Homo sapiens: one gene and its partners. The protein of the gene in region 7 purifies or fractionates together with the protein of the main gene of each other region. This does not show direct contact. Each region holds a gene or a part of one and is shown on either strand. Other genes may lie near its edges. The genes, in order: TENT4B, UTP11, SPATS2, YTHDC2, ARK2N, MTCL3 and ZNF276.

Evidence for each region.
Region 1: the proteins of ZNF276 (region 7) and TENT4B purify together in Homo sapiens (co-immunoprecipitation; one large-scale study listed by IntAct). This does not show direct contact.
Region 2: the proteins of ZNF276 (region 7) and UTP11 purify together in Homo sapiens (co-immunoprecipitation; one large-scale study listed by IntAct). This does not show direct contact.
Region 3: the proteins of ZNF276 (region 7) and SPATS2 purify together in Homo sapiens (co-immunoprecipitation; one large-scale study listed by IntAct). This does not show direct contact.
Region 4: the proteins of ZNF276 (region 7) and YTHDC2 purify together in Homo sapiens (co-immunoprecipitation; one large-scale study listed by IntAct). This does not show direct contact.
Region 5: the proteins of ZNF276 (region 7) and ARK2N purify together in Homo sapiens (co-immunoprecipitation; one large-scale study listed by IntAct). This does not show direct contact.
Region 6: the proteins of ZNF276 (region 7) and MTCL3 purify together in Homo sapiens (affinity purification with mass spectrometry; one large-scale study listed by BioGRID and IntAct). This does not show direct contact.

What each region holds. Positions count from the first base shown.
Region 1 is NC_000016.10:50,222,513-50,226,741, forward strand, and holds part of TENT4B (terminal nucleotidyltransferase 4B), read left to right. Parts: intron 1-661; coding exon 662-875; intron 876-2,144; coding exon 2,145-2,271; intron 2,272-2,378; coding exon 2,379-2,482; intron 2,483-2,585; coding exon 2,586-2,773; intron 2,774-4,229. UniProt on the Homo sapiens protein: Terminal nucleotidyltransferase that catalyzes preferentially the transfer of ATP and GTP on RNA 3' poly(A) tail creating a heterogeneous 3' poly(A) tail leading to mRNAs stabilization by protecting mRNAs from active deadenylation.
Region 2 is NC_000001.11:38,011,138-38,015,942, reverse strand, and holds the start of UTP11 (probable U3 small nucleolar RNA-associated protein 11), read right to left. Parts: upstream 3,210-4,805; 5' UTR 3,141-3,209; coding exon 3,078-3,140; intron 1-3,077. UniProt on the Homo sapiens protein: Part of the small subunit (SSU) processome, first precursor of the small eukaryotic ribosomal subunit.
Region 3 is NC_000012.12:49,496,164-49,500,392, forward strand, and holds part of SPATS2 (spermatogenesis-associated serine-rich protein 2), read left to right. Parts: intron 1-669; coding exon 670-846; intron 847-3,906; coding exon 3,907-4,042; intron 4,043-4,229.
Region 4 is NC_000005.10:113,516,452-113,520,680, reverse strand, and holds part of YTHDC2 (3'-5' RNA helicase YTHDC2), read right to left. Parts: intron 1-4,229. UniProt on the Homo sapiens protein: 3'-5' RNA helicase that plays a key role in the male and female germline by promoting transition from mitotic to meiotic divisions in stem cells.
Region 5 is NC_000018.10:46,260,305-46,264,262, reverse strand, and holds part of ARK2N (protein ARK2N), read right to left. Parts: intron 1,335-3,958; coding exon 1,145-1,334; 3' UTR 1-1,144. UniProt on the Homo sapiens protein: AMPK substrate important for exercise capacity and skeletal muscle function.
Region 6 is NC_000006.12:127,474,051-127,478,279, reverse strand, and holds part of MTCL3 (microtubule cross-linking factor 3 precursor), read left to right. Parts: intron 1-1,811; coding exon 1,812-2,987; intron 2,988-4,229.
Region 7 is NC_000016.10:89,734,320-89,738,548, reverse strand, and holds part of ZNF276 (zinc finger protein 276), read right to left. Parts: intron 1,001-4,229; exon of another isoform or gene 829-1,000; coding exon of another isoform or gene 744-828; coding exon 644-743; exon of another isoform or gene 574-643; coding exon 303-573; 3' UTR 1-302. UniProt on the Homo sapiens protein: May be involved in transcriptional regulation.

The DNA of each region.
Region 1 (4,229 bases), about 40 Mb from region 7:
ATCGAAATCAACCTGTAATTGCATTGCTTTCCTTGATTACTTAACGGCTTTTCCCTTTAAACTGGGTACATTTTATCATTTAGCAAATATGTATTTTTAAATTCCTATGAAAGAATATTTTTGGTTTTAAATCCCATACATTCTAGTATTTTTGAGACTTTTCACTGCAAATTTTAACATGCAAAATGTACGGCCTGGTTTCCATAAGCATAAATAGTATAAATGCCAACAATAAGAATGTCTTCTAAGCAGCTAAATCTTGTAAGTTTAGTTGGAATTGAGACCAGCTATTTGGGTAAGCGAATTAGAGTCTTAGTATTGTAAGTGGGTATGTTTATGTGGCACAGGGTTGCCAACTGCCTGAGTCTATTCGTGAGTCAGAACGACTTTGCTGATGTGTTGGGCCAAGCCAGCCCTGGTTGGCAGCCTGGTGCAGCCGTAAAATTCAGCCTTACAAACAGTCTCCCGCCATTCCCGCACCATGGGACTTTAGTGTTGTGTGTAACAACAGTATAACCTGCTGTTAGCCCATTATCAACTGACTGCTATGCTAAACCAAAATTATAATAATATTGCTTGTAGAAGTTAGAATATAATTTATTCCCCCTCTCCTTGATAATTTAGCAAAAATCCAATATAATTTCTTCTTTTCTGCTTTTAGTTACATCCCAGGGAAGATGCTTGCATCCCCAATACAAACTATGGTGTTCTCTTAATAGAATTTTTTGAATTATATGGACGACACTTCAATTATTTAAAGACTGGCATCCGGATAAAGGATGGTGGTTCATATGTGGCCAAAGATGAAGTACAGAAAAATATGCTAGATGGCTACAGGCCATCAATGCTTTATATCGAAGATCCTTTACAACCAGGTATTGAAATTAGGTAAATTTGTGGGCATTCAAAGAGAGGGCACTGTCAGTCACCTTATTATACTTTAAATTCTCTTTAGATGAAAAATGAAGGAACAACTTCTAATTGTTATTCTTTTTTCATCGAAATATTTCATGAGCAAACATACTAAAATAAACAGACACAGACAATAGAAAAACACCTTGGAGACTTCCAGATAAGTAGGGAGTAGAATCTGTTTAACCCTAAAAGCATAGTAGAAAAGGCATTCACTTATTTGGATGGGTTCATGTTTGGTGGCTGTTTCTCCTTCTTGGGTCCTTATTGCCTTGATTACAACCAATTGTCAGCAATTAATGAGGCTTTAATGAGATGATTCTGAAGTCCTGAGAGGCAGCAAGCATAGTAATATATCTTTGAATTCATGAGCAGAAGGGTGCAAGGAGACAATGTATTTTCTTTTTGAATTTCTCCTTTCCTGTTTGATTTTGCATGTCTCTTTGTGCTTTTTCCAGCTTCATGTGGGCTTGAAAGTAAGCAGAAAGTAAATTCCTTCCATGCTTTTCTGAAGTTCTGTTTGCTTGCTTGTGTCCTGATTTTTGTGAGCAATATTTTTTCTTGATATAATTGTAAAATAGATTCTGCGTTATTGGACTTCAGTGGAAGTGCTTTTAGTCATTTGCTTTAATGTGTAAACTTTGAAAATGAGTAAGGAAAGGGGGTGAAGAGATAGAGTAGTTGCCTAGGAACCATTTTCTGGCTTATTGAGCTGCCTTATAAACATTAATAGTTCTATGTGTTTATTCATTGAGGAAACATTACATTGATTGGGAGCCTGCTCTGTTCAAAAGTATTGGGCCAAAGGACACGAAGACTTTTCAGCAAGACGATCCTTGCTTTTTAGGGGCTCATAATTTAGAGTGAGAAATAGATATATAGCTAATATAAACCCAAAAAATATAGAAGTATTTCTGATGTAACTTGGGGTTTCACTCTTAGGAGTGAACAGGGCACTATTTCTTTTGTTTGCATAACTGTTTATGTATGGAATGGGATAATTCTTGATGGGCCAGAATACATTCCGGCAACTGATACACCATAATGAAGTACCAACTGCATGATTCACATATTCAGAGACTGGGGAGCTTTGGGGACAGCTCACAGCTCAGCTTCCAGGCACAACTCTGGTGGGATAACTATGGCCCTTGCTCTCCTGGAAGAGAGTCATCAACATTTAGTGCATATTAAGCACAGTCAGGCTTACTATGTTACGTATATTTCTTTTAAAGGTAACGATGTTGGAAGGAGTTCATATGGGGCCATGCAAGTGAAGCAGGCCTTTGATTATGCCTACGTTGTTTTGAGTCATGCTGTATCACCAATAGCAAAGTACTATCCCAACAATGAAACAGAAAGGTAAAAGTTCATCTATAACCAGCCCATTGTGTCAAAATTAGTTGTGGCTTCTTATCTTCAAATTAATGTTATTCCCTCCCTCTCCCTTTCTTTTTAAACACATGCAGCATACTAGGTAGAATAATTAGAGTAACAGATGAAGTTGCCACATATAGAGATTGGATATCAAAGCAGTGGGGCTTGAAGAATAGACCTGAGCCTTCATGCAATGGTAAGATATTTTCCTTGGTCGATTGACTGAGTATTAGAGGCTTTTCTGTGTTGTGTGCGTTTAATGGGAAGAAACGTTTTCCAATCTTTTGCCACTCTTTCAGGAAATGGTGTTACCTTGATAGTAGATACTCAGCAGTTAGATAAATGTAATAATAATCTATCTGAAGAAAATGAAGCCCTTGGAAAATGTAGAAGTAAAACCTCGGAATCTCTTAGTAAACACTCTTCAAACTCTTCATCAGGTCCAGTGTCGTCCTCTTCTGCCACACAGTCCAGCTCTAGTGATGTAGTAAGTATGAAAGCCTCGGCTCTTCTGAACTCAGATGCATGCACGTTCTCTTGCTGGGGTTAACACTGTCTCGAAGGCTAAGGCTACTTCCTTTGCTTACATGTTACTGGGATATTTTAATAACTTTCATGCTTGTACATTTTCTCAACATTTTGTTATGAAAAAGTTCAAGCATATAGTAAAAGTGAACAAATTTTAGTGAGCATTCATGTACTCACCAGTAGATTCTGCTATTAACCTTTTACTTGCTTATGTCATACCTGTCTATCCATCACTCTATCCATTAATTCATCTTATTCTTTGATCCATTTCAAAGTAGATTACAGACATCAGTTCCCCTAGAGTACTGTAGCTTGTGCATCCTTGTAGCCAGACTCCAGTATTTGTTTATTGTTTTTTCCTTTTTTTTTTTTTTGAGACGGGATCTCCCTCTGTCACCCAGGCTGGAGTGCAGTGGTATGATCTCGGCTCACTGCAACCTCCGCCTCCCATGTTCAAACGATTCTCCTGCCTCAACCTCCTGAGTAGCTGGGATTACAGGTGCGTACCACCATACCCAGCTAATTTTTTGTATTTTTAGTAGAGACGGGGTTTCACCATGTTGGTCAGGCTGGTCCTGAACTCCTGATCTTGTGATCCACCCGCCTCAACCTCCTAAATTGCTGGGATTACAGGCATGAGCCACCACACCTGGCCTTTAACGTTTTTCTTTTCTTTTCTTTTCTTTTTTTTGAGACGGAGTCTTGCTCTGTCACCCAGGCTGGAATGTAATGGCATGATCTTCACTCACCTCAACCTTCGCCTCCTGGGTTCAAGCGATTCTCCTGCCTCAGCCTCCTGAGTATCTAGGATTACAGGCATGTGCCACCACACCCAGCTAATTTTTTGTATTTTTAGTAGAGATGGGGTTTCACCATGTTGGCCAGGCTGGTCTCGAATTCCTGACCTCAAGAGATCCACCCGCCTCAGCCTCCCAAAGTGCTGGGATTACAGGCGTGAGCCCAGCTGTTATGACTTTTTAACACCATAGTTAGTTTTGCCTGTTTCAGAATTTCATACAAATGGAACCACATAGAATATAGTCTTGTGTAAGGCTTCTTTCACTCAATTTTTTTTCAGCTTTCTGGTTGAATTTTTTGTTGTTGTTGTTTTGTTTTGTTTTTTGAGACGGAGTCTCGCTCTGTCGCCCAGGCTGGAGTGCAGTGGCGCGATCTTGGCTCACTGCAAGCTCCGCCTCCCGGGTTCATGCCATTCTGCCTCAGCCTCCCAAGTAGCTGGGACTACAGGTGCCCGCCACCACACCCGGCTAATTTTTTGTATTTTTAGTAGAGCCAGGGTTTCACCGTGGTCTTGATCGCCTGACCTCATGATCCGACTGCCTCGGCCTCCCAAAGTGCTGGGATTACAGGCGTGAGCCACCACGCCTGGCCAAATTTTTTTTTAGTTGAGATATAGT
Region 2 (4,805 bases), on a different chromosome or scaffold from region 7:
AGCTTTACCTCTGAACAATCTGTGACCTTGGGCATGTCACTTAACTTCTCTGAGCTGCTATTTCCTGACTGTAACATGAAAATAGTACCTGCTTCTCCGGGTTATACTGAGGATTCAAGGAGCTTCTATTAATGGTAATGCCTGCACATGGCTTGACACATAGCAGCTTTCCAGCATGAGTTTACTATTATTATTATACTTGTGGTACTCAGTATGAGAAAAAAGTATGACAGAAAGTACTTTCTCTGACGTAGACTTGGAGAGCATGGAAGGTATAAGGATTAAATCTTGGTATGATCCTTCTACATACTACCATTTGTTGAGCACTTAGTATATGTCAGGGTCTTGCAATGTGCTATGCTCCTTACACAATTTCATTTAATCCCCACCACAATCTTGGAAAGAAGGTGAAACAGGCACTATTGTTACCCCAGTTTTCCATAAAGGGAATGAGGTTTAGAGAATGATATGCCCAAGAACACAGAACTAATAAGTAGCAGAGCCAAAACTAGAACCCATTCTCCCTAGGGCCATCACAGTAGACTGAGTCCTCTTCTGTTGCGAATAATCTTAACATTTTGGGAAATGCATACACTTCTCCAGTGTTTAAACTTGTATAATAGGCCGGGTGCAGTGGCTCATGCTGTAATCCCAGCACTTTGGGAGGCCACGGTGGGTGGGGCATCTGAGGTCAGGAGTTCAAGACAAGCCTGGCCAACCTGGTGAAACTCCACCTCTACAAAAATACAAAAATTAGCCGGGCATGATGGCAGGTGCCTGTAATCCCAGCTACTCAAGAGGCTGAGCTGGGAGAATTGCTTGAACACGGGAGGCGGAGGTTGCAGTGGGCCAAGATCACACCATCGCACTCCAGCCTGGGCAACAGGGCGAGACTCCGCCTCAAAAAAACAAACAAAAAAAAACTTGTATAATAATTTGGGTAGGATTTTTAACAGTCATCTTTCTCATCTTTTATCCTTCAAGTGATGCAATAAATAACTATTTAAGGCCAGGCTCACACTTGCAATCCTAGCACTTTGGTAAGCTGAGGTGGGCAGATCACTTGAGCCCAGGAGTTCGAGACCAGCCTGGGCAACACAGTGAGACCTCATCTCTACAAATTAAAAAAATAAAATAAAATTAGCTGGGTGTCACAGTACACGCCTGTGGTCCCAGCTACTCAGGAAGCTGAGGCAAAAGAATGGCTTGAGTGAGGGGGTCGAGCCTGAAGTGAGCCGTGATTGCCCCACTCACTCCAGCCTTGGCAACAGAGGGAGACACTATCTCAAAAACATAAGTAAAATAATACCAAACCTCCCCTAATAATTTTAACTTTAATTACAGCAAAGGGAGGTTAACAGAGTAGAGAAAGCAAGCTAAAGGGTCAAAAAAGCAACAACATGAGGTGAGGCAGAAATCTTGAAATCTCTCATGTCCACCTGAATGTACAATCGCATTACAAAAGGAAACCTGGTATTGTATCTGAAATAGTTTACGTAATAACACATACACCCTCCATACAAAATATCTTCAGTAGCTCCCCTGCTGCCCTACTGAAGGATCTGCAGGATAAAGTCCAAACTACCCAAATATGGAACGTTTGTGTCAACGGTTTACCCACCTTTTCAGGATGGTCTTCTTCTCACCTCTTCTACACAGGCCATCTGTTCCTACTCAGCCATGGCCATGCCATGTCCACAGCCAGCTCTGAAAGCCCTCTGTCTTCTCTGCTAATCCAATTCCACTACTTACAACTGTGACTTTGGATATACTATTCAATCTCTTTAAGCACCAGATTCCTCATTTGTAAAATGAGGAATGAGGGTAACATCCACTTCAGAGGGATGTTGTAGGATTACATGAGACAATTGTAAAAACATGCAGGGCTGTGCCTAGCATATAGTAAGTGCTCAAAAGGTGATAGTTTTGGCCGGGTGCAGGGGCTCACGCCTGTAATCCCAGCACTTTGGGAGGCCAAGGCGGGTGGATCACCAGAGGTCAGGAGTTCGAGACCAGCCTGGCCAATCTGACAAAACCCCGTCTCTACTAAAAATACAAAAATTAGCAGGGCATGGTAGTGTGCACCTGCAGTCCCAGCTACTCGAGAGGCTGAGGCAGGAGAACCGCTTGAACCTGGGAGGCGGAGGTTGTAGTGAGGCGAGATCGTGCCACTGCACTCCAACCTGGGCAACAGAGTGAGACTCCATCTCAAAAAAAAAAAGTTTGATATATGCTATTAAGCAGGAAGACTGAACTGTAGTTAAGAGGCCTTAGTTCTATCCCATCAGTCAGCTGCACAACTCTTTCCCCTGTCTTCCTCATCTGTAAAACTAAGTTGGAGCACATATGTATGTCTAAGGGCCTTTCTGAATCAGATATTAAGCACGGGATTCCTGACAGTGTATCAACTGATTCTGCATATAAGCTTATTTCTACTCAACCTCCCTACACAGACACACCCACCATAGAAATCCTAGAACTGTTTACTCTGCCTGAATCTGGTGTTTGTAACTGGACAAGTCACCACTCTGGACCTCAGTTTCCTCATCTGTATAATGGGAATGGAAAAGGCCAACATTAAGGGGTAAGGCTTAAACAAAAAGCACATATGGCAGATCTTCATGAACCACAAGCCCAGCGTGATGATGATACCACATTAGTAACCACAGTCTCTTCGGTCAGGGCCCCCATATGCAGCAGGCGGAGCTGCCCATTAGACGTGGGATCCAATTTCAGCCCAGCAGTTGTTGCCTACATGAGCTCTGACCTCAACTCCTCAGAAGAGACCAGGCACTTGACAGACATCTTACTCAATCACCACACTGAAATCTTCCAGAGCAGGTTTTATATCCCCAAGGAAAGGGGGGCACCCCTGCTTTTCCTAGAACGGAAACGACAAATCCCCTCCACTCGTTCCCACGAAGCTCCGCCCCAGCCACGCCAGCGTCATTAACATACATTTACGTGCATTTATATACTATACAGTTTGGACCCGGATCCCACGGTGGCGACAGGGTTGGGGCAAGGGTAACACATGGCGACAAAGGCCAGCACTTGTGGGGCCTGTATGGTCCTACCTGGCTTCGCTCTCTGTGTTCCCGCTGCCGGGACTTAGCCGCCTTCCGAAAAGCCGCCGCCATGTCTGTACAGCCTTGGAAAAGATCAGTGGAGAACGCCGGATCCGCACTGCCTCTGCCGCCAAGTCCACTGATTCCTACCGGAAATAGGCCTAGCCGCCGGCGGTTTAGAACCGCCTACTTCCTCTAAGCAACCTATCCGGAGCCGGCTTTCAGGAAGTACGTCATTTAACAGAGGCAGTCACCGCAGGCTGCTTCTGGGAAGTGTAGTTTCCCAGATATAGTCTCGTGACTCTATAAGAGCCAGTTCTTATTCGCTAGCGCCTGTCCACGCTACCCAGATCTCGCCTTCGCGCTTGGCCCGCGTGGGCACCTGGGAACACGTGGCTGGCACTGGCCTCCGTCTGAGCTGGGCTTAGCGTGTGCGCATGTGCAGTCACTTACAGCTCGGCACGGGTTGCTGTATCTAGAAGGTATGTTTAAAGCTAGAGCAGTACGGATTTAACAGTTTTGGGGCTGGCTGGGCGCGGTGGCTCACGCCTGTAATCCCAGCACTTTGGGAGGCCAAGGCAGGCGGATCACGAGGTCAGGAGCCTGCCCAACATGGTGAAACCCCGTCTCTACTTAAAAAAAATACAAAAATTAGCTGTGCTTGGTGGTGCGCGCCTGTAATCCCAGCTACTCGGGAGGCTGAGGCAGGAGAATCACTTGAACCTGGGAGGCAGAGGTTGCAGTGAGTCGAGATGGCGCCATTGCACTCCAGCCTGGGCAATAGAGTGAGACTCCGTCTCAAAAAAAAAAAAAAAAAAAAAAAAAACACTGTTGGGGCTCAGGACTCACCACTCCAAAATATGACTGTGGGAGGCCAGAATATGCCACCCCAAAATATATATTTCTCTGGCTTGTTTCTTAAAGCTGGTTATGCTGAGAAACTGCAGATACAGGAGTTGCTCTGAAAAGCTGTCCTTCCTTTTGTAGAAATAAATTTATCACCTACAAAGGAAATCTACATTTTTAGTGAGGTATCTGTGTCAAGAAGAGGGCTGACAACTATTACTTCCTGAGAGATTTTATCTCCATAACAGGACATTTCCTCCTCTCACCTTCCCATAATATGTGTTGCCACCAGCCCCCAGAGGCCCCATGCCACTATTCTTTTCTGTAACTTGGGACACTATATAAACTTCATTCATCTGACCTGTCCATTTTTTGCTCCTCTACAACAGTGTACAGGAAAAAATATTCTATAGAGAGACAAGAGACCTTAAAACCATAACTGGCTCTGCCATTCACTTACAGGCTGTGTGACTTTTGGCAGGTTTCTTGACTTTAATGAGCATCATTTTTCTCAAGCATAAAATGAGGATAATAATAACATACACTTCTTGCCTCATATTGCTGTCAAGAGCTCACAGTTGAACTGAGGAGTCATATCTGTAAAGAGCATAGAAGGAAATCACCCAATGACAATAGCTATAAAGTTCTGAGTCCCTCACATCCCTAAGGGAATGGCTGGTTGACGATATGCGAATCAGAGGCAGTACAAGGTAATGACCCATGAGGTGTGTTCTGATGCCACCCCAGTCAAGGTAAAGTTAGATTCACTGAGCCTCCATCTCCCCATCTGTAAAACTGAGGTAATAATAATACTATACCCACAGGACTGTTTTGATGATTAAACGAAATATGTTGGTTTTTTGTTTTTTGTTTTTTTTTTTGAGACAGAGT
Region 3 (4,229 bases), on a different chromosome or scaffold from region 7:
CTCAAACCAACAATAGCCAGTGGTTTCCATTTTTTTCTGAACTAGCTTTCCTCTCATTTCCTAACTCTTCCTAACTTATTACACTTCTATCCCCTAGAGCGTTGTTGTTTGTTTGTTTGTTTGTTTGTTTTGAGAGACCTGGTCTCTCTCTGTTGCCCAAGCTGGTCTTAAACTCCTGTGCTCAAGTGATCCTTCTGCCTCAGCTTCCTGAATACCTGGGATTACTGGCGTGAGCCACTATGCCTGGCCCCTAAAGCTTTTTAAATTCTTCTTTCCTCGAGAGAGTTTAAAACTCTTTTTTTCTTAACATGGAGGCTTGCAGAAGTTGGTGATACTGACTTTCTTTGATTCCTTGTGCCAGACTTACATAGAAACTACCAAGCTACAAAGAAGCCACAGAGCCACAGGGATTGAGCTCCCTATCTAAAGATGTGTTGCCACAGACTCTTCTCTTCATTCCGGACGCCACTTAAGACTAAGCCCGAAGCTGCCGATAGCCATACCCAGCTGATTCTGATCTTTGTTCTATTGTTTCAGTTGATTTTGTTTACAGTCTTTTAAGAGGCATGGTTTTGCCTCAAACATTTTTACCTGTTTTCTTTGTGTACTTAAGAATGACTGGTTTACTCCTAAATTGTGCTCTAAAGTACAGTCCTCTTTCTTGGACAGGATCCATGCTGCAGAATGGTGTCTCTGATTTTGAGACCAAGTCTTTGACTATGCACTCTATTCACAATTCTCAACAACCCAGGAATGCTGCCAAATCTCTCTCAAGACCTACCACAGAAACTCAGTTTTCAAATATGGGGATGGAAGATGTTCCCCTCGCCACCAGTAAAAAGCTAAGTAAGTCAGAGGCCCACCTGTGAGAGAAAATGAAAAATCTGTGTTTTTGGCTAAAGAGGGCAAATTATCTCTGTTGCCATAAATAAGGTTTCAGAAGGGCATCAGTTAATATTTTTCCATTTTCCAGACAGTGACTGACTACTCAGCCCTTCCCCTAACCTTTGTGTACACAGTTGGAGTCTGAAAGTAGTTTAAATGCTGTACAATCTACTTACGACGGCACGTTTTGTGAATTAAAGTCAAACTCTACTGCCAGAATGATTTACCTGCTAACATTAACCTGTTTCTTTATTTGCTTTATTGCAACGTTTTGGTGCTATTTCTTTCATTTTTATCTTCTGGTTGACCCAACAAGTAAAAGCTCTACCTTCTCTGACATTGACTTTTTTTTTTTTTTTCCCCCGAGACTGAGTCTCACTTTGTCCCCCAGGCTGGAGTGCAGTGGCGCAGTCTTGGCTCACTGCAAGCTCCGCCTCCCGGGTTCATGCCATTCTCCTGCCTCAGCCTACCAAGTAGCTGGGACTACAGGCGAGTGCCACCATGCCCGGCTATTTTTTTGTATTTTTAGTAGAGATGGGGTTTCGCCGTGTTAGCCAGGATGGTCTCGATCTCCTGACCTCGTGATCCGCCTGTCTCGGCCTCCCAAAGTGCTGGAATTACAGGCGTGAGCCACTGCGCCCAGCCAACATTGACATTTTAAAGAAATATTTTCACTCCTCTTCATAACTTCATGCTCTTACTGAGCTAGAGTCCTCTGACAGACTCTAGCTTAGAAAAAGTAAGGTCATTTTCTCTTAAGTATGTGGCGTTGACTGGTGATAGCTCTTTGCTTAAAAAAAAAAGAAAACTACAATAATCATTTAAACAAACAGCCAGTAATTCAGCAGACAGAGATAATACCCTGTGTTTCCTATATCTGAGTTTCATACATCTAAGCATGGTGGTCCACTCCACTAAACAAATGAAACATAGAAATATAAAGGACACTTGTAATCAGTAGCTCTTTATGGAATTATTTATTACACATGAGCCAAATTTTAATTAGGTAAGCTCCCCTTTTTCATTGTTCTGGTAGCCCTCAGCCTGTTGCAGATCAGCAGGTTTGAGACTATCCAATCAAGCCAAAAAAAAAAAAAATATATATATATATATATATATATGCGCACAAGGCTTGAAAGCTTTTAGGTGGATTCTAAAAAATAAAATCAAGTTGAGATGAGGAAGAATTTAAATAAAAAAATTGGAAATGCATATCTTGGCATAGTTACAAACTTTTTAGATCCATGTTTCCAGCAATCAATTATATATGTAATTTGGGGATTGGTGAATATAGAAAGGTAAATAGAACTCTTGGAAATTGGTTAAAATGTGTTGAGTAGGTAAATGCAGTCCATCCTTTTCTACAAAGCTGGCTTCCTCATATATACAGTGCTTTGAAGTGTACTATACAGACAGAACATTTTAATTTTGTAATGTCCACATGGTGAATTATATTCTATTAAATCCTGTAACTTAAGGAATTTTGAAAATTTGGTACCTTTTTTAAAGTCTTTTTTCTCTGTGTGTTTCATTTCATTTTGGATAGTTTGTAAAACTGCTGTCTTCAACTGTATTCATCTTTTGTTAACAGTTTCTATTCTGCTGTTAATTCTATGCAGTATATGTCTCTGGCATTGTTTTATTTGTCTCTAGAAGTTCAACTGGGGTCTTTTAAGATATCTTCCATATCTCTTCTTACCACGCTTATGCTTTCCTCTACCTTCTTGAACATATGGTATCTATTTTTTTTTTTTTTTTTTTTGAGATGGAGTTTCACTCTTGTCACCCAGGCTGGAGTGCAATGGTGTGATTTCAGCTCACTGAAACCTCCGCCTCCCAGTGATTCTCCTGCCTCAGCCTCCCGAGTAGCTGGGATTACAGGTGCGTGCCACCACACCCAGCTAATTTTGTATTTTTAGTAGAGACAGGGTTTCACCATGCTGGCCAGGCTGGTCTTGAACTCCTGGCCTCAGGTGATCCACCCATCTTGGCCTCCCAAAGTGCTGGGATTACAGGCGTGAGCCACCACACCTGGCCCTATAGTATCTAATTATAATAGCTGTTTGATGTCCTTTTCTACTCAATTCTATCATCTGTGTCATTTCCGCATCTGCCTCTGTGATTGATTTTTTCTCTTACTTATAGGTCATATTTTTCTGTTTCTTTTAAGCTTTTTTAGGTGGGACTAGAGCAGCCTTTAGTCTAGAAATAATTTTGCCCTGTTGCTGAGGCAGTATCCTTCCAACTACTCTGCCTGCCATATATTGTGAGGTTTTTCCACTCTGGCTGGTGTGAGCACAAACTGTCCCTGGCCTGGTGAGCTCTGGGGATTGTTCTGCCTGGTTGTTTTGTTTTGTTTTGTTTTGTTTTGTTTTGTTTTGTTTTGTTTTGTTTTTTGGTGGTTCTTTGGTTTTGTTTTGTTTTTTTTTTGCCTGTTGTCTTTCCAGTCTTGGGTAGTTTCTTTATACTCATGCACTGGTCCACACTCAGAATCCTCTGTGGATCTCCGTGCAGCTCTCTCATGTGTGTAGCTCTTTCCTCACCAATACTCTGCCCCAGAATTTCAGCCATCTTGGCCTTTCCAAATTCCCAACTTTGTCCCTTCAATTCAGGGGGTCCACCAGGCTGTTGAGGATTTCTCCTCCCTGCATTGTAGCCTAGAAACTATTGAGGCAGCAAGTTGGGGCAATCATAGGCCTCACTTCATTTGTTTCTGTTGTCTCGGGAAAAGTACTACCTGTTACACATTGTCTGAAAACCATTGTTTCATATATTTTGTCTTTGTATGTTTTTAGTTGTTTAAGATAGAAGAATAAATCCAATTATTATTATTCCATCTTGACCAGGATCCTTTTTTTTCCAAAAATCTATAAAAACATGTTTTTCTCATTGGGGAAGGTGGTTATTTAGGAAAGATTCTTAGTCTACATGACATTTGGCTTTGGTGTTCAGATCCGACTTTCAAGTTACCTATATAATTATTCTTTTTTTTTTTTTAATATTTCGGTTTTTTTCCCCAAGGTTCCAATATTGAAAAATCTGTAAAAGACCTCCAGCGCTGCACAGTGTCTCTTGCACGGTATCGAGTTGTAGTTAAAGAAGAGATGGATGCCTCCATTAAGAAAATGAAACAAGCCTTTGCTGAATTGGAGAGCTGGTAATTTAAGCTGCATTTGATATCAGTAGCATAAAAATGATCATATATAAATATAAAGATGGTCAGCCATTCCCCAAGTTCATTCATTCATGACTAACTACATAGTAGGAGAGACTTATAAATCCTATGGTATATTTAGCTTTCTGCTTTGTTCTATTTCTCTTGGTCACAGTGTGAGAATGGTACA
Region 4 (4,229 bases), on a different chromosome or scaffold from region 7:
TGTTGCTCACTTCTGTGAACAAAAAGTGCACTAAGGCCATGGGAGTCATCCACTTTCAGGTCAAGGTCTATCCTTTCCCTTGTGGTAAATACCAGGCCAGAGATGAATCAGCACCAAACCAAAGGCCCTCATCCAAATATGAGAATGCTGACTCCTTCTCATTTAAAGAAAAAAAAAAAAAAGAGATTCTTTTATTTTCAATAATCCTTTATTCTTGGGAAAACCCAGTTTAAATGTGACCTAATTTTTTATTTTATTTAGCATATTACATCTATGATCATAAGTAAGATAAACCCATAATTTTCATTTCTAATATCTTCTTTATCTGAGTTAGGTAGCGAAGTTATACTAGTTTCATAAAAAACAGGAGGTGTCCCTCTCTTTGATTCTCCAGGAAAAACTGAAGTAAAAATAAAATTATGTTTATTGTGCAGCCATAAAAAAAGAGTAAGTTCATGTCCTTTGCGGGGACATCGATGAAGCTGGAAACCATCATCCTCAGCAAACTAACACAGGAACAGAAAACCAAACACTACATGTTCTCACTCATAACTGGCAGTTGAAAAATGAGAACACATGGACATAGCGGGGGAACATCACACACAGGGGCCTGTCAGGGATTAGGGGGAAAGGAAAGGAAGAGCATTAGGACTAATATCTAATGCATGCAGGGCTTAAAACCTAGCTGATGAGTTGATAGGTGCAGCAAACCACCAGGGCACATGTATACCTATGTAACAAACCTGCACATTCAGCACATGTATCCCAGAACTTAAAGTAAAATAAAATTAAAAAGAAAAGAAATTATGTGTATTGACTCTTTGATTTAAATTACCTCTGAATGGCATTTGTGTGAGTAAATTTCTAATCTTGATTAAATTTATATAATGAATTTTTTAAAAAACCATTGTTAGGATTAAATGATAATCCATTTAAAGCACCTAGCACAAGTATACAACAACACTTAGTAAATGTTTGCTCCTGCCTCCTCAAGGAATGCAGCCCTGCCGATATCTTGATTTTAAGTCCATGGGACCTCTGTTGTTGGACTTCTGACCTCCAGAACTGTACTTTGGTACTCTATTTGGTACCTGTTAGGCAGTGACCTTAGCAGTCACAGAAGAAACTTGTACTTGGAAAATCTACTTTCATATACTTCATATTTTCCCATTCTACAGATTTTTAACAAAGTTCATTTTGTAAAATCCATTTTTGTCTAACTTGGACTGAGAAAAATCGAGATGGGATTTTGTTTTCATTATAAACAAGCCAAAGACTTAGAAAAGTGAGCCTTTAGGACTAAAACACACTGACCTCAGCGTGACTTTAAACACAACCTTTAAAGTTGAGGAAAAAAAGTAAATAATGATGTGAAATTTTTGGTATGTGAAACCTGACTAGAATTTCAAAGAAAACTTTAGGATATATTAAAAATCACAAAATGGGGCTTTTACTCCAAGAATGTTTTCACTAAAAGATGAGCAATTACAAAAAATAATCAAAACAGCGCCAAGGCACACTAGTTCAGGCCTATAATCCCAATACTTTGGGCGGCCTAGGCAGGAGGATCACTTGAGCCCAGGAGTTTGAGACCAGGCTGGGCAACATAGCAAGACCCCATCTCTAAAAAAAAAAAAATCTTAAATTAGCCAGGCATGGTGGTGCATGCCTGTGGTCCTATCTACTTGCGAGGAAAGCCTGAGCCTAGGCGTTTGAGGCCATACTGAGCTATGATTGTGCCACTGTACTCCAGCCTGGACAACAGAGGAAGACTCTGTCTCTAAAAAATAAAAATAATCAAAGCAGGTAAAATTCAATTATTTAGAAGATGAAAAACAAAATCCATCACAAATGACATAATTTTGAAAGAAAGAGTATCAAAAAGAAAAAATTGACCAGAAAAAAATTGAAAGCTATCACACAATAAGTCTGGAATCTATTTTTTAAAACTTATATAAAAAGCCCAAATAAGAGAATGAGTCAATGAGAGACTGGAAATAGAATCCAGGCTTTCTGCACTTTACACCAGGTGGCCTCTCAAATAGGTACTAAGAAACTATAATATCAGACACCTACAGATACACACACACACACACACACACACACACACACACACACACACACGAAAACTAACTTACTGAATCAATAAAGTTAACGATAGATTATTTTTTTAAAAATCGGCTGGGCCCAGTGGCTCATGTCTGTAATCTTAGTACTTTGGGAGGCCAATGAGGGAGGATTGCTTGAGCCCAGTAGTTCAAGACCATCCTGAGCAACATAATGAGATGCTGTCCTCTACAAAAAATAGAAAAATTAGTTGGGTGTGGTAGCATATGCCTGTAGTACCAGCTACTCAAGAGGCTGAGGTGAGAGGATTGATTGGGCCTGGGAGATGGAGGCTGCAGTGAGCAGCGAGCCGTCATCATTCCACTGCACTAAAGCCTGGGTGACAGAGCAAGACCTTGTCTCCAAAAAAAAAAAAAAACAAAAAAACGCCAGGTGCAGTGGCTCACGCCTGTAATCCCAGCACTTTGGGAGGCCAAGGCGGGCAGATCACGAGGTCAGGAGATCTAGACAATCCTGGCTAACACAGTGAAACCCCATCTCTACTGAAAATACAAAAAATTAGCCGGGCGTGGTGGTGGGCGCCTGTAGTCCTAGCTACTTGGGAGGCTGAGGCAGGAGAATGGCGTGAACCCGGGAGGTGGAGCTTGCAGTGAGCCGAGATTGTACCACTGCACTCCAGCCTGGGTGACAGAGCAAGACTCCATCTCAAAAAAATAAAATAAAATAAAATAAAGTCAAAGGGTGAACAGAAAATTTCATGGATAAGTCAGGTACAAATTCTCATACAAATGAAAAGAAAGGATTTGAGAAGTAGATTCAAAGTGATTTCTTTCTTTTTGTGAAAAGAAGAAAAGGCATTTGAAAATCACAAGGACCACTAAGAAAATATAGTACAAAGTTTACTCAAAGATGAAAAAAAGAGAGAAGGAGCTAGGGTATTTCGTAAGAAGGTTTGAAAGCATTAAGGTTATAGGTATTAGGGACTGGATAAATAGGCAGGATTGCCTTGCTTCCCTTAGCATCTCTTTCCTTTTTCTTCTTTCTCTGGCTCTTCAATGTTTCCGCATTCCCCATTTTTGTCTCCATAACTTCCTTCTTGAATTCTCCTTCCCAAGATATCTATTCATTCCAGATCAGCTCTTACATGACTATGCTACTGAAGAGAAGGACAGGAAGTCTACTCTAATGGACTGCTTTTCTAAGTTAGCTGTTTAGAATGCAAGACCCATGTAACCATAGAAATGATGTAGCTACAGAACTGTACATTTATAACATGTGTTTCCAAGCACAGGCCCAAAACCTCTTACCTGCAACTAGTAAACCCAAACAGTGCCAAAAACTGGAAACTTTTAAGTTTGCAGTAACCTCATTTGACATCAAATGTGATCACGTGATTAAACTGACATGAGGTTATTAATAGTCTCAGTGTGAATATTCATAGAATTTCCAGCAAAAATATAAATGTGACTAAAGGTGATGGCCATATTTTATTAGGTAGATTATACAACATATTGCAAATATACCCAAATACCTTTCTAAAGTCTAAAAAATCTGAATCTCAAATATATTTAGCCCAAGTGTTTCTGGATAAAGTATTGTGGCACTGAACTATATTTTTATTTTCAGGTGCAGTATTTTTACCTACCTAGTGGACTATAAGATGGGCACATTCAGGAATCTAACCACTGTTCCAGCACTGGCCTTAGTGATGTTCAAAACGCACATTCACCTAAACTAAATCCCGTGTCTCAGTAATTTATCACTGTAGTAGGCAGTCATATGCAAGACATTCCTACATCAGCTGCTTTCACTTTGGGACCATCTGAATATTTATTAATATATTTACTTAATAAAGTTTTGTTTTCCCTCTTCCTAACCTAAAAACATACCGGTAAGCTGAAATTTTATCCTTTTCTTCCCTCTATGTCAGTAGTTCTCAACCTGAGCAATTTTGCTCTCCAGAGGACATTTGGCAACCTCTAGAAGCATCTCTGGTTGTCACAACTGGGGTTAGGAGTGTTAGTGGCATGTAGTAGTAATGGCTATGGATGCTGTTAAACACCCTACAGTACACAAAACAGAATAAAGAATTATCCAGTCCAAAATGTCAATAGCACCAACAGTGAGAAAGCTTCCTTTACATTGATCCCACCATCCTTATT
Region 5 (3,958 bases), on a different chromosome or scaffold from region 7:
ATTCCCTGAAGCTCCTGCTACCCTTTGCTAATCCTTTTAGACTCTGTAAAACTTACCAATGACATTAACGTGCTTTGCATCTGATTTCTTATGGTACATTCTGATTCTTCTTATGGTATTTTTTTTTAGAAGGTAGAGGAGAAAAATACCCAAATACAGCATCAGGTCCACTTCATCTCGGATGTTAAACAGTTGTTGCTACATACTCTTTATACAGAGACCAGCTATGAAAGACGGCACTTTCCTCTCGGATTTGCAAGTGCCTGTAGCCTCAGAGGCCACATAACTTTTCATATTCTTCCCAACAGGTTTCTATGTTCACCCGTTATTTGACTAAACCAGAAAAAAAGGCGAGGGAGAGAGATTTTTCCCACTGAACTCTTAATACCTTCAGATGCCCAGAACACCTCATGGTGGGTATCTATCTGAAATGCCTCTGTCTCAAAGGAGACATTTTGCAAAGAGTTATTAATTATTGCAACAAGGAGAACAACTAGGTCACCTTAGTAGTATTTATAAACACAAAGGGACATGTCAATTATCTGTGCTGTGGGAAGTCAACAGGAGCAAACTCAAGAAAGAAGGCAGAAGACTTAAAATAAAAGAAAATATAATTTTAATACTTCTGTCTTCTATTTTTAAGGACAAGTTTTTAAATGCACATGCCCTACTAGGTGCCAATAAGGACCTGACTGATATGTGTGCGAATGCCCTAAGATGGGAGTGCCAATGGGGTGGGCAGATAGTGGTCAAGTCTAGATATTAATTTCATTATACAGAAAAATAAATACAAGATTCAAAAACTGAAACCCATTTTGCCTGGCAATTAAAATATTATTCTAAAAGGAAGGCAGAGTTTCCTAAGATTAAAAGTCACCAAGTAAAATAAAGTTGTCTAATAAAATTCATCATTCTATATTCCTACTGAGGGAAAGAAGAAATTCTTTTCTCTGTGATGTTATTTTCCTAAGTGACTTCTTTTAATTAAAAAAAGGGGGGAAGAGGAGGGAATTTTCCATGAGTTTGAATCCTACAAATGCCACAAACAGCTTCTGAAGCTGAAGCTATGACAATGAACTTCCATGTCACAAAGAGGATGAGGAAGTGGAAGGGAACAGTGCAGAGGAAACACAGTGACATTGTATTACAGTAGGTATTTACGCCTGCTATCCTCATCCAAGGTAAGGTCAACAACTTCTGCTGGTGAAGCCCAAGTCTGCTGGGGAGTCACAGCAGTCCATGACTGTGTTTGCCTGGTGCTAACATACTGCGTGCCCGAGCCATGCTTCCATGAAGAAACACTCTGAATCACACCACCTCGAGGATGAACACACCTGCAATTGAGATGAAGAACAAAAGCATGGTTAATTCCACCACAGGAAAAACAGAAGACAATATGACCTCAGTTGTACTTATCAACATTTTTACTAAGATAAACCTAGTATGCAAGTTCATAAAACCCACAATCAATATCCTTCCCTCCATCTCTGTCTCCCTCTCTCCCTACCCCACCACACCCCACTTGGTCCCTCTCTCAGTTTAGCCTTAAAAAGGCCAAGGGTCTTATCTCAGCCAGAAACTCCTGAGTTGTGTCACTGACCATGGGTGACAGGATGTTTCTCTGGACTCATTTACACCTCTGGGATCTTCATGATAGGGCAACACATAAATCCAGAACAAAGTTAAGATGCCCAAACAATCTTAGTCTGAACAAATCAAACAGTAAGAAAAATAGTTAAAACTTGTTCTTAAAATAAGCTTTATAATTGGTAATAATGCCTTCAAAGACAGTGACAGTAATACCCTTTCACAGATTAAATTTCTAAAAGTCTGTAAGTAATAGATCATGAATAAAGGATCAATTTCCCTTGTCCTGAAGGTCACAACAGAAGCACTTGGTTCATTCAACAGAATCGCTTATAATTTGGTTCCGTGAAAGTAACACAGCTGAATCTTCAGTTTAGATCCACTAAAAGGGTTCTATCGGAGGGAGAGAACTGCCTTGTTAGCAAGTCACACCAAGAGTTCACTGAAATAAAATTGTTTCAGAAACACTGACAGTTTGAATTCCACAGTCCAGTCAAATGATAGAATTGTGAACCTCCAGGCCAAAACACTAAGTTCTGACTCAAATGAGAGGAAGGCAGGCAACTCATGTGATCAATGCTATGTCCTCTCATCTAAACTTCCTGACCAGCCCTCAGGTAGCTTATGTGAGAAGTAACAAGTGGCATGAGTCTAGTCACTAAACTACCACAGTGGCTCCTGAGCAGCTGTTTGACAATCTGTAAGCAACAAATAATGCTGGGCCACTTGAGAATTTCAGCTTTGGTTTAATGCTACCTACACCACCAGATTCAAAAGAACATTAGGGTAACAATGGACACGATTCAGTTGCAAAACTGCCCCAAGGACCCTTAAACTCCTGCAAACATGCCCTACTCCTACAAAGGCTTAATCTGATAACTTCTCCCTTACTAAGAAAAATTCCTAAGAACAGATCTCTCAGGGCCAGAGCAGAGGGCAGAACGCAAATTTGCTACAGTACCAGAAGCCCGTCATCTGTCCAGAGATGGGCTATGTAGTTACTAACCCAGAGGCTACTACCTTTTCAAAGATTAGCTAGAGAAATAAATAGGGACATTAAAATAAGGGACATAAAGCCCAATGTCTAATTCACATCTGTTCAACCCATTATATAAATTCATATTAAGTGACCATGTAGTCATGGAAAAATGTCAGCCAAAGGAGTCCATTCAACATTTATAGAAATGGTTTTGATGACTGAAGGCCAACGGAACACTACCTTTACTAAGCAGTTTCACATATATTATCTCATTGGACAATTCTGACAGACCTATGAGGTAAGCATGGAATTTACTATCCTCACTCTACAGAGAGGGAAACTGAGGCTTAAACAGGTTACATGATTTGCTCAGAGTCACAATGCTTGAAAGTGATAGGCCAAGGAAGACAGGTCTGATTTTGGGTCCAATGCTTTCCATATCATGTTGTTGCTTTACAGATGTGTGTATTAAATCGGGTGCAGCAAAACACAACAAGAATCATCAGAGTACAAAAATAGACCCAAACTAACAATTTAGAAGTATAAAGTTACTTGACAATTCAAAAGCTCACCTGTATAAGCACTAATTGAAGTAAAGCTGGCTAGAAACCTGGTAAGAATTCAGGCAACGAGTGGCAAAGAGAGTCAATGTAATCTTTGGCAGAATTTCTAAAAATATCTCCGAAGTAAAAGAAGTATATAGTCCCAATTGTTTATCTGTATTGCTCACTAAGTAATCATACAATGTAACGTCAAGCAGTGGCTTTTTAAAAAATCTGATCTAATCTGTTTATTATACAGAAGAAAAAACCTAGGCCAAAAGACAACCATCCAGGCTCTTAAACAAGTTAAGCATAGAACTGGAGTAAAATCAGGTCTCCACTCGAGGGTTTATTTTCCACTGAATAACAATGCCTTCTTCAGGCTATACCTGAAGTTACTACATCATGTTTGACTGAAAGAAGCACTGCCTGGTTCCCAGGGCCATTCAATAAGCGGCAAAGAAGAGTTTAGAAAGTGTCTGGCATAGGAAAAGAACTAGGAGAGTGAGAGGTTTAGAGACCTTATTTCCTACTGAGGAATGGCTGAAGGAGAGAGAATAGGAGACAGGGCACTTCAACTATCTAAAAATAGATCACTTCTGAAGTTATGTTACAAATGGTTCCAGTTACCAAAAACCAGCTTAGGCTACTTTAAACAATGAAGAGAATTTATTAGTAGGACACTGGGCACCTCAAAGAGCCTAAGATGATGGAACAACCCCTAACCCTCTCTATTTCTCCTACTTCAAAATTTTAGATTATCTGGAGAATGTGATGATACTATCTTCGGTCAAAAGCTTTCCTAACTCTAATTATTAATAGTTGTACATGGAATTCCCAAAGGGAGAAT
Region 6 (4,229 bases), on a different chromosome or scaffold from region 7:
TGCTCCTCTTTATTCATTCTCTATCCTTGCTATTGGCCATACAATCCAATGAGACCCCTCAACTCAAAAATTCAGGGTCATCTTTGATTCCTCTGCTGATGTGATCCAAAACATTGTAACATGTCCTTGGTCTCATCCTCAAAAAATCTTCCATCAAAGCTTTCCATGACATGCCCTCTTCTCCTCTCTGGATGCTGCTAAGGCTCTCTCATCTCTTCTGGTAGTCCTTCTCTTCTTTCTTCTAAACCTCTCCTAGAGGAAAGTGTACAAGGCAACACATCTTACTTCTTTGATTTTACCACATTGCTCTATTTTTTTTTCTTTTATGCTTCTTTTCTAGAGGCAGCATGTGCAGTGGAAGGAATATGAGTTTGGGACTCAGCCAGAATATAGACTGTGCTCTGTCACTTATTAACTTGTGCACTGCAATGTTAATAAATCTCCCCTATCGGTAAAGGGGAGATAGCATCACCTATCTTGAAGGACTGATATAAGTATTTAATACTATATGGAATGTAATGTTCAGGCTCTGCACACCCAGCAGCTCTCAAACCCTTCATATTCTTCATATTCCCATTAGTAGATAGGAAGACAGAAGACCTGTGCCCTGTTCTCCATCTCTTCCATCTCAAAGGCTCTGTGTGGTATTTACTGAGCATCTCTGGCAGAAGCTCATTATTCTCCTCACCTTCTCACCAGTGGTTGCTCCTTCTTTACCAGAATGCATCTCAAACACAGATGACCGAGTACTGGATAAGGAAAGAATTTTTATTTTTGTTTTTTTAATGAAGAAACCAAAGTTCACAGAAGTTATATGATTGGCTCAAAGTACACACTTAAAAGAGAATTTTGAGAAATTGTCCTTGGGAGAAATGACCTTAGACATAATAACATGCTTCAGTAATATCCCTCAGAGAAAGATTTCCATTCCTCCTTTTGTACTTTTCAATTTAGTTAATGATTGGGCTCTGAGGTTGTCGTAAGAATGTGTGAGAAGAACTTCTATAGTTCCACTATTCTTTTGCCAGGCTTTATCCATTTCAGACTGATGGGAGTACAACCTATTTTAAATGTGATCTAGATGGAAAACTTAACAGTTTCTCCTTGGATGGACCATTCCAATGTCAAACTTTGCTGACTTACAGGCCTCTAAAACAATTTTCCTTTGAATAAAAACAGGGGGCAGATTATTTCCTAAGTGACACAGAAATCAAGAGCCTGAGCATTTGTTTCAGACAGAACTGGATTCAAATTTCACCTTTGTCCTTTGCTATTCATTAGCTGTGTAACCTTCGAACGGTTACTGAACATCTTTAAACCAGGAACTGTAATAACTACTCCTAAGTTTACTCTGAATATTAAATTAGGTTCATATTTGTAAAACACTTTTCAGCACTTGGCTCAGTGTAAGTGACAAAAAAGTGGCCGCAAATGCATATGAACCACATGCTCGTTGAACAGATTTTATATTTATTACTGCAATAATGAAACAAAAGAAACACTGCTGAAATGATCACCAAACAGTTGTATGCAGTTACAACATATAATAATCTCTGAATAGTGATGCCACAGTTATTCTCTTTTCATATTCCTTTTCCTTTTTGCTTCCAGGATGTAACATTGTTCTAATCTTTAATTTGCCAGAGAATTTAAGTGATCTGAAGAAAATACACAGTATCTGCTTCTGTTTCTCTCTGTCATTAAATCTGGATTGCAAGAAAAATTATTTATCCAGGTGTCCTCTTTTGGTTGTTTCCTTGATTTACATAAAAATGATCTCCTATCCTTTTCCCTCTTTTCCCCCAAATGAGGAGGACAATGAAGATCTGAAGTGCCAGCTGCAGTTTGTTAAGGAAGAAGCCGCTTTGATGAGAAAGAAAATGGCCAAGATTGATAAAGAAAAGGACAGATTTGAACACGAGCTCCAGAAGTACAGATCCTTTTATGGGGATCTGGACAGTCCTTTGCCCAAAGGAGAAGCCGGAGGCCCTCCCAGCACTAGGGAGGCCGAGCTCAAGCTACGGCTAAGGCTGGTGGAGGAAGAAGCCAACATCCTGGGCAGGAAAATCGTCGAACTGGAGGTGGAGAACAGAGGCCTGAAGGCGGAACTGGACGACCTTAGGGGCGATGACTTCAACGGCTCGGCCAACCCGCTCATGAGGGAGCAGAGCGAATCCCTGTCGGAGCTGCGGCAGCACCTGCAGCTGGTGGAAGACGAGACGGAGCTGCTGCGGAGGAACGTGGCCGACCTGGAGGAGCAGAACAAGCGCATCACGGCGGAGCTCAACAAGTACAAGTACAAGTCCGGCGGCCACGACAGCGCGCGGCACCACGACAACGCCAAGACCGAGGCCCTGCAGGAGGAGCTGAAGGCGGCGCGCCTGCAGATCAACGAGCTCAGCGGCAAGGTCATGCAGCTGCAGTACGAGAACCGCGTGCTTATGTCCAACATGCAGCGCTACGACCTGGCCTCGCACCTGGGCATCCGCGGCAGCCCCCGCGACAGCGACGCCGAGAGCGACGCGGGCAAGAAGGAGAGCGACGACGACTCGCGGCCTCCGCACCGCAAGCGCGAAGGGCCCATCGGCGGCGAGAGCGACTCGGAGGAGGTGCGCAACATCCGCTGCCTCACGCCCACTCGCTCCTTCTACCCGGCGCCCGGGCCCTGGCCCAAGAGCTTCTCCGATCGGCAGCAGATGAAGGACATCCGCTCGGAGGCCGAGCGCCTGGGCAAGACCATCGACCGGCTCATCGCCGACACGAGCACCATCATCACCGAGGCGCGCATCTACGTGGCCAACGGGGACCTGTTCGGACTCATGGACGAGGAGGACGACGGCAGCCGCATCCGGGAGCACGAGCTGCTCTACCGCATCAACGCTCAGATGAAGGCCTTCCGCAAGGAGCTGCAGACCTTCATCGACCGCCTCGAGGTGCCCAAGTCTGCGGACGACCGCGGCGCCGAGGAGCCCATTTCCGTGAGTCAGGTACAGTTCTGCCTATTGCGAGCCACGGCGGTGGCCAGGCTGGCCCGTGGAGCCGCGTCCCTGGGGGGCGTCTCGGCGCCCGGACTGCCGCGCCCCGCTTGAGGGAAGCCCCCGCTCAGGGCCGCGCTGGGGCCTGAAACCCCCGGCCTCGGCCCACCAGTTCTTCCACACTGTCCTTCTGCAGGGCTGAGGTTTTTGTGACTCCATCACATAGTCACCATTTCTTCCTCTGTTTTGTTTAAAAGGAAAACTGAACACCATTACCCTCAATTGTTGTGGAAAGAGTAACGGATTTTGAGGCACGTTATTATTTTAGAAGGTCAATATTTTTCTCTGTTACTCTGCTAGCAGATGAACTGCAAGATGGTCCTGGATAGGAATATTTAACTGCTGATATGTGGTTTTTGAGCCAAGATCCATATTGAGTTTAGGATTTAAAAAAAATGACTAGACTAGGAGGCCGAGGAGGGTGGATTGCTTGAGCTCAGGAGTTCGAGTCCAGCCTGGTCAGCAAGGCAAGATCCGTCTCTCCAAAACATATGAAAAATTAGCTGGGTGTGGTGGCACGCACCTGTAATCCAAGCTACTCCGGAGGCTGATGTGGGAGGATCACCTGAGCCCAGGCAGGTCGAGGCTGCAGTGAATGGTGATTGCACTACTGCACTCCAGCCTGGGCAAGAGTGAAACCCTGTCTCAAAAAAAAGAAAGAATAAAACTAAAACAGAATTGATGGCAGGGCACTGTGGCTCATGCCTGTAATCCCAGAGGCCAAAGAGGGCAGGAGGTCAGGAGTTCGAGATCAGCCTGGCCAACATGGCGAAACCCGTGTATACTAAAAATACAAAAATTAGCCTGGTGTGGTGGCGCACTCCTGTAATCCCAGCCACTCCGGAGGCTGAAGCAGGAGAATCACTTGAACCCGGGGAGAGGGAGGTTGCAGTGAGCCAAGATTACACCACTGCCCTCCAGCCTAGGCGACAGAGTGAGACTCTGTCTCAATAAAAAAAATTAATTTAATTAAATAAAACAGAACTGATGGATAACTACTGGTAAATGTAGAAACCAGTGGTAAAGAGACATGGTTTTGTGTCTACAACCCCCTGGAAAGGAACAAATGAAAGCCACTTTTTTTTTTTTACCATAAGTTGAAATAACATGATCATTATTTCCAGAGAAAATCACTCTCAGTTGTATAGTGGAGAATCTCAGGACTGGGGAAGGAGTCTATACGGTAGCTTGAAG
Region 7 (4,229 bases):
AGCATAACATGGAGCTCTTGTTGCACTAAAAAGTGGATTACAAATCTCCTCGACTGCTTTAGTGGGGAAAGGAATCAATTATTTATGAACTGTCCGGCCCCGAGTCACTCAGCGTTTGCGGGAAAATAAACCACTGGTCCCAGAGCAGAGGAAGGCTACTTGAGCCGGACACCAAGCCCGCCTCCAGCACCAAGGGCGGGCAGCACCCTCCGACCCTCCCATGCGGGTGCACACGAAGGGTGAGGCTGACACAGCCACTGCGGAGTCCAGGCTGCTAGAGGTGCTCATCCTCACTGCCGTCCTCAGGTGGGTTCGGGCTTCACCGCCTGGCCCTCTGTGGTCACAGAGGGGCTCGGTGGCCCAGGTGGTGGTTCCGCCTCCAGGGGCAGGGCCTTGTCCTGGGTCTGTGTCAGCGGGTGCACCATGGACATGTGTACATTGAGGTTGTGGGCCTTCTCAAACCGCCGGCCACACTGGTCACAGGCAAAGTCCAGCTCAGTCTCAGCCTTGTGTTTGGTCATGTGGTACTTGAGGGATGCCCGCTGCCTGCACTGGAACCCACAGACCTCACACCTGGGGGACAGAGGCAGATAAGAAGGTGCGAGGGCCACAGCCCTGGGAGGGGGTCCTGACTCACACTTACTGCAAAGGCTTGGCTCCCGAATGTCGCATTTGGTGGACGAGAAGGTGCTTCCGCTGCTTGAAGGTTTGTCCACATTCGTCACAGATATAGTTCCGCACCTCTGAGAGGGGAGAGTCCAGTGAGTCCAGGCCCCTGATGCTCCAACCTCCCGGGGGGACGACGATGACAATGTGAAACCATCACAGCTGGGAAGACATTTCTGCACATGGTTCACCATGCAGTGGGCCCAAGCAAGGGGCCTATGAGGGCCTCGTTTATTAAGATCTTTAAACTGCTTTATACACTGTCACGTGGCTTCATCAGCTGTGTGCATTTCAGGATGGTTTTTAAAGAAACCTCAGAAAGCTATTTCCTTAACCACAGATTCTTGTCTTTTTTTTTTTTTGAGATGGAGTTTCGCTCTGTTACCCAGGCTGCAGTGCGGTGGCGTGATCTCAGCTCACTGCAACCTGCGCCTCCCAGGCTCAAGCGATTCTTGTGCCTCAGCCTGCCAAGTAGCTGGGATTACAGGCGCCCCCCACCACGCCCAGCTGATTTTTGTATTTTTAGTAGAGACAGGGTTTACACCATATTGGCCAGGCTGGTCTTGAATTCCTGACCTTGTGATCTGCCTGCCTCGGTCTCCCAAAGTGCTGGGATTACATGTGTGAGCCACCGTGCCTGGCCTACAAATTCTTAAAGGAAGCCGTATCACTAAGGTTGTATAGAATACTGATTGTCACAGCTATGGCTGTTCTCTAGAATTCATCTCCATATGAGAGGGGTCCATACCCAGGGTCTGGGGGTATGCATTGCTGTACTGGCTCTGGAAATCTTTCTCACACCCTTGAACAAAGAGATCTCACTTGCTAGTCCACAAATGCCACATGTGGACATGCAGACCCACTCACCCTGTGCTGCCTCCACATCTGTCAAGCCCTGAAACGCTTCACAAGACAGACTTTTCTCTTCGAAGGGAAACCCTATCTTGGCATTTTACTCTACGCTGTTCTTTTTTTTTGAGACTTGAGTCTTGCTCTGTTGCCCAGGCTGGAGTGCAACAGCCCAATCTCAGCTCACTGGAAACTCCACCTCCCAGGTTCAAGGGATTCTTTTTTTTTTTTTTTTTTTGGAGACAGGGTCTTGCTCTGTTGCCCAGGTTGAAGTGCAATGGTACAATCATGGCTCACTATAGCCTGGAACTCCCAGGCTTAAGTGATCCTCCTGCCTCAACCTCTCAAGTAGCTGGGACCACAGGTGTGCACCACCACACCCAGGTAATTTAAAAAATTTGGGGGGCCGGTGCAGTGGCTTACACAAAGTGCTCAATCCCAGCACTTTGGAAGGCCAAGGCAGGCGGATCATGAAGTCAGTTCAAGACCAGCCCCAGCCCAATCAATATGGTAAAACCCTGTCTCTACTAAAAATACAAAAATTAGCCAGGTGTGGTGGCACACACCTGTAGTCCCAGCTACTCGGGAGGCTGAGGCAGCAGAATTGCATGAACCCAGGAGGTGGAGGTTGCAGTGAGCTGAGATTGCACAGCTGCACTCCAGGCTGGGCGACACAGACTGTCCCGGAAAAAAAAAAAAAAATTGGGGGCTGGGCACGGTGGCTCATGCCTGTAATCCCAGCACTTTGGGAGGCCAAGGCAGGCAAATCACCTGAGGTCAGGAACTCGAGACCAGCCTGGCCAACATAGCAAAACCTGCCTCTCTACTAAAAATAGAAAAATTACCCAGGCGTCATGGCTCACGCTTATAATCCCAGCACTTCGGGAGGCCGAGGCAGGTGGATCACAAGGTCAGGAGATTGAGACCAGCCTCACTAACGTGGTGAAACCCCGTCTGTACTGAAAATACGAAAAATTAGTTGGGTGTGGTGGCCAGCACCTGTAGTCCCAGCTATTTGGGAGGCTGAGGCAGGAGAATGGCTTTACCCCAGGAAGAGGAGCTTGCAGTGAGCTGAGATTGTGCCACTGCACCCCAGCCTGGGCGACAAGAGCAAGACTCAGTCAAAAAAACAAACAAACAAACAAAAAAAAACACCCCCGGCGTGGTGGCAGATGCCTGTAATCCCAGCTACTCAGGAGGCTGAGACAGGAGAATTGCTTGAACTAGGGAGGTGGAGGTTACAGTGAGCCAAGATCGCGCCACTGCACTCCAGCCATGGTGATAAGAGTGAGACTGTTTCCATCAATAAATTAAAAAAAAAGTTTTTGGTAAAGACGGCCTCACTATGTTGCCCAGGCTGGTGTCAAAATCCTGGCCTCAAGCAATCCTACTGCCTTAGCCTCCAAAGTGCTGCGATTACAGGCATGAGCCACTGCACCCGGCCCAATTTCAGGTTTTTAAGGAACTGCTGGTTGTGACCATCAGTGACCGGACAGATGCAGAGTCTGAAGGACCAAACCCAAGGAAGTGCTGCCATCAGGAGAGATGTCGGAGAACCCAAAAAATAACAACCCGCATGTCGGGAGATGACCCAGCAGTGAAAAGCAATCCTAATGAAAAAATACTTCAGTAAATTCAAGTAAGAATAAATAATTCTTATTCTGTAATAAGTTCAAAACCAAGGAAAACTGTGTGTGTAAGGATCAATATACAGTTGTCCTCAGCTGGTTCCAGGCCCCCCCCCACCCCTTACCAAAATCTGCTCATACTGAAGTCCCGAAGTTAGCCCTGCAAAGACCCTACAGAACCTGCACTTAGGAAAAGGCAGCCCTCTGAATACCAGGGATTCGAGTCCCTGACCATGGATATGTGGGTCCACGTGGTTCAAACAAGTTTTTTTTTTGAGACAGTGTCTCACTGTTGCCCAGGCTGGAGTGCAGTGGTGTGATCTCGGCTCACTGCAACCTCCACCTCCGCCTCCCAAGTAGCTGTGCCTACAGGCGTGTGCCACCACACCCAGATAATTTTTGTATTTTTAGTAGAGACCAGGTTTTACCATGTTGGCCAGGCTGGTCTTGAACTGCTGACCTCAGGTGATCCACCCACCTCAGCCTCCCAAAGTGCTGGGATTACAGGTGTGAGCCACCACGCCCGGCCAAGTTTGTCATTTTGAAAACATATCCTTGTTGGATTATAAAAGTAACTTGTGCATTATAGAAATTGTGAAAAATAAGACGGGCACAGAGACAGCACCCTCAGTCATAATTCCCCCATCCGCCTCCGGTCTTAATGACACGACCTACACACATGTGAAAAGGCAGAACCACACGTGCCTCCCGCCTGTCCACGTGGGCAGCTCCCCAGAGCTGGTGTGCCTTCATGCCTTCTGCCTTGCCTTTTAAGATACACTTGTTTGGGCCAGGTGCAGTGCTCACACCTGTAATCTCTGCACTTTGGAAGGCTGAGATCACTTGAGGTCAGGAGTTAGAGATCACCCTGGCCAACATGGTGAAACCCCGTCTCTACCAAAAATTACAAAAATTAGCCAGGCATGGTTGCGGGTGCCTGTAATCCCAGCTACTTGGGAGGCTGAGGCGGGAGAATTGATTGAACCTGGGAGGCAGAGGTTGTGGTGAGCCAAGATGGTGCCACTGCACTCCAGCCTGGGCAACAGAGCAGGACTCCGTCTCAAAAAAAAATTAAAAAATAAAATG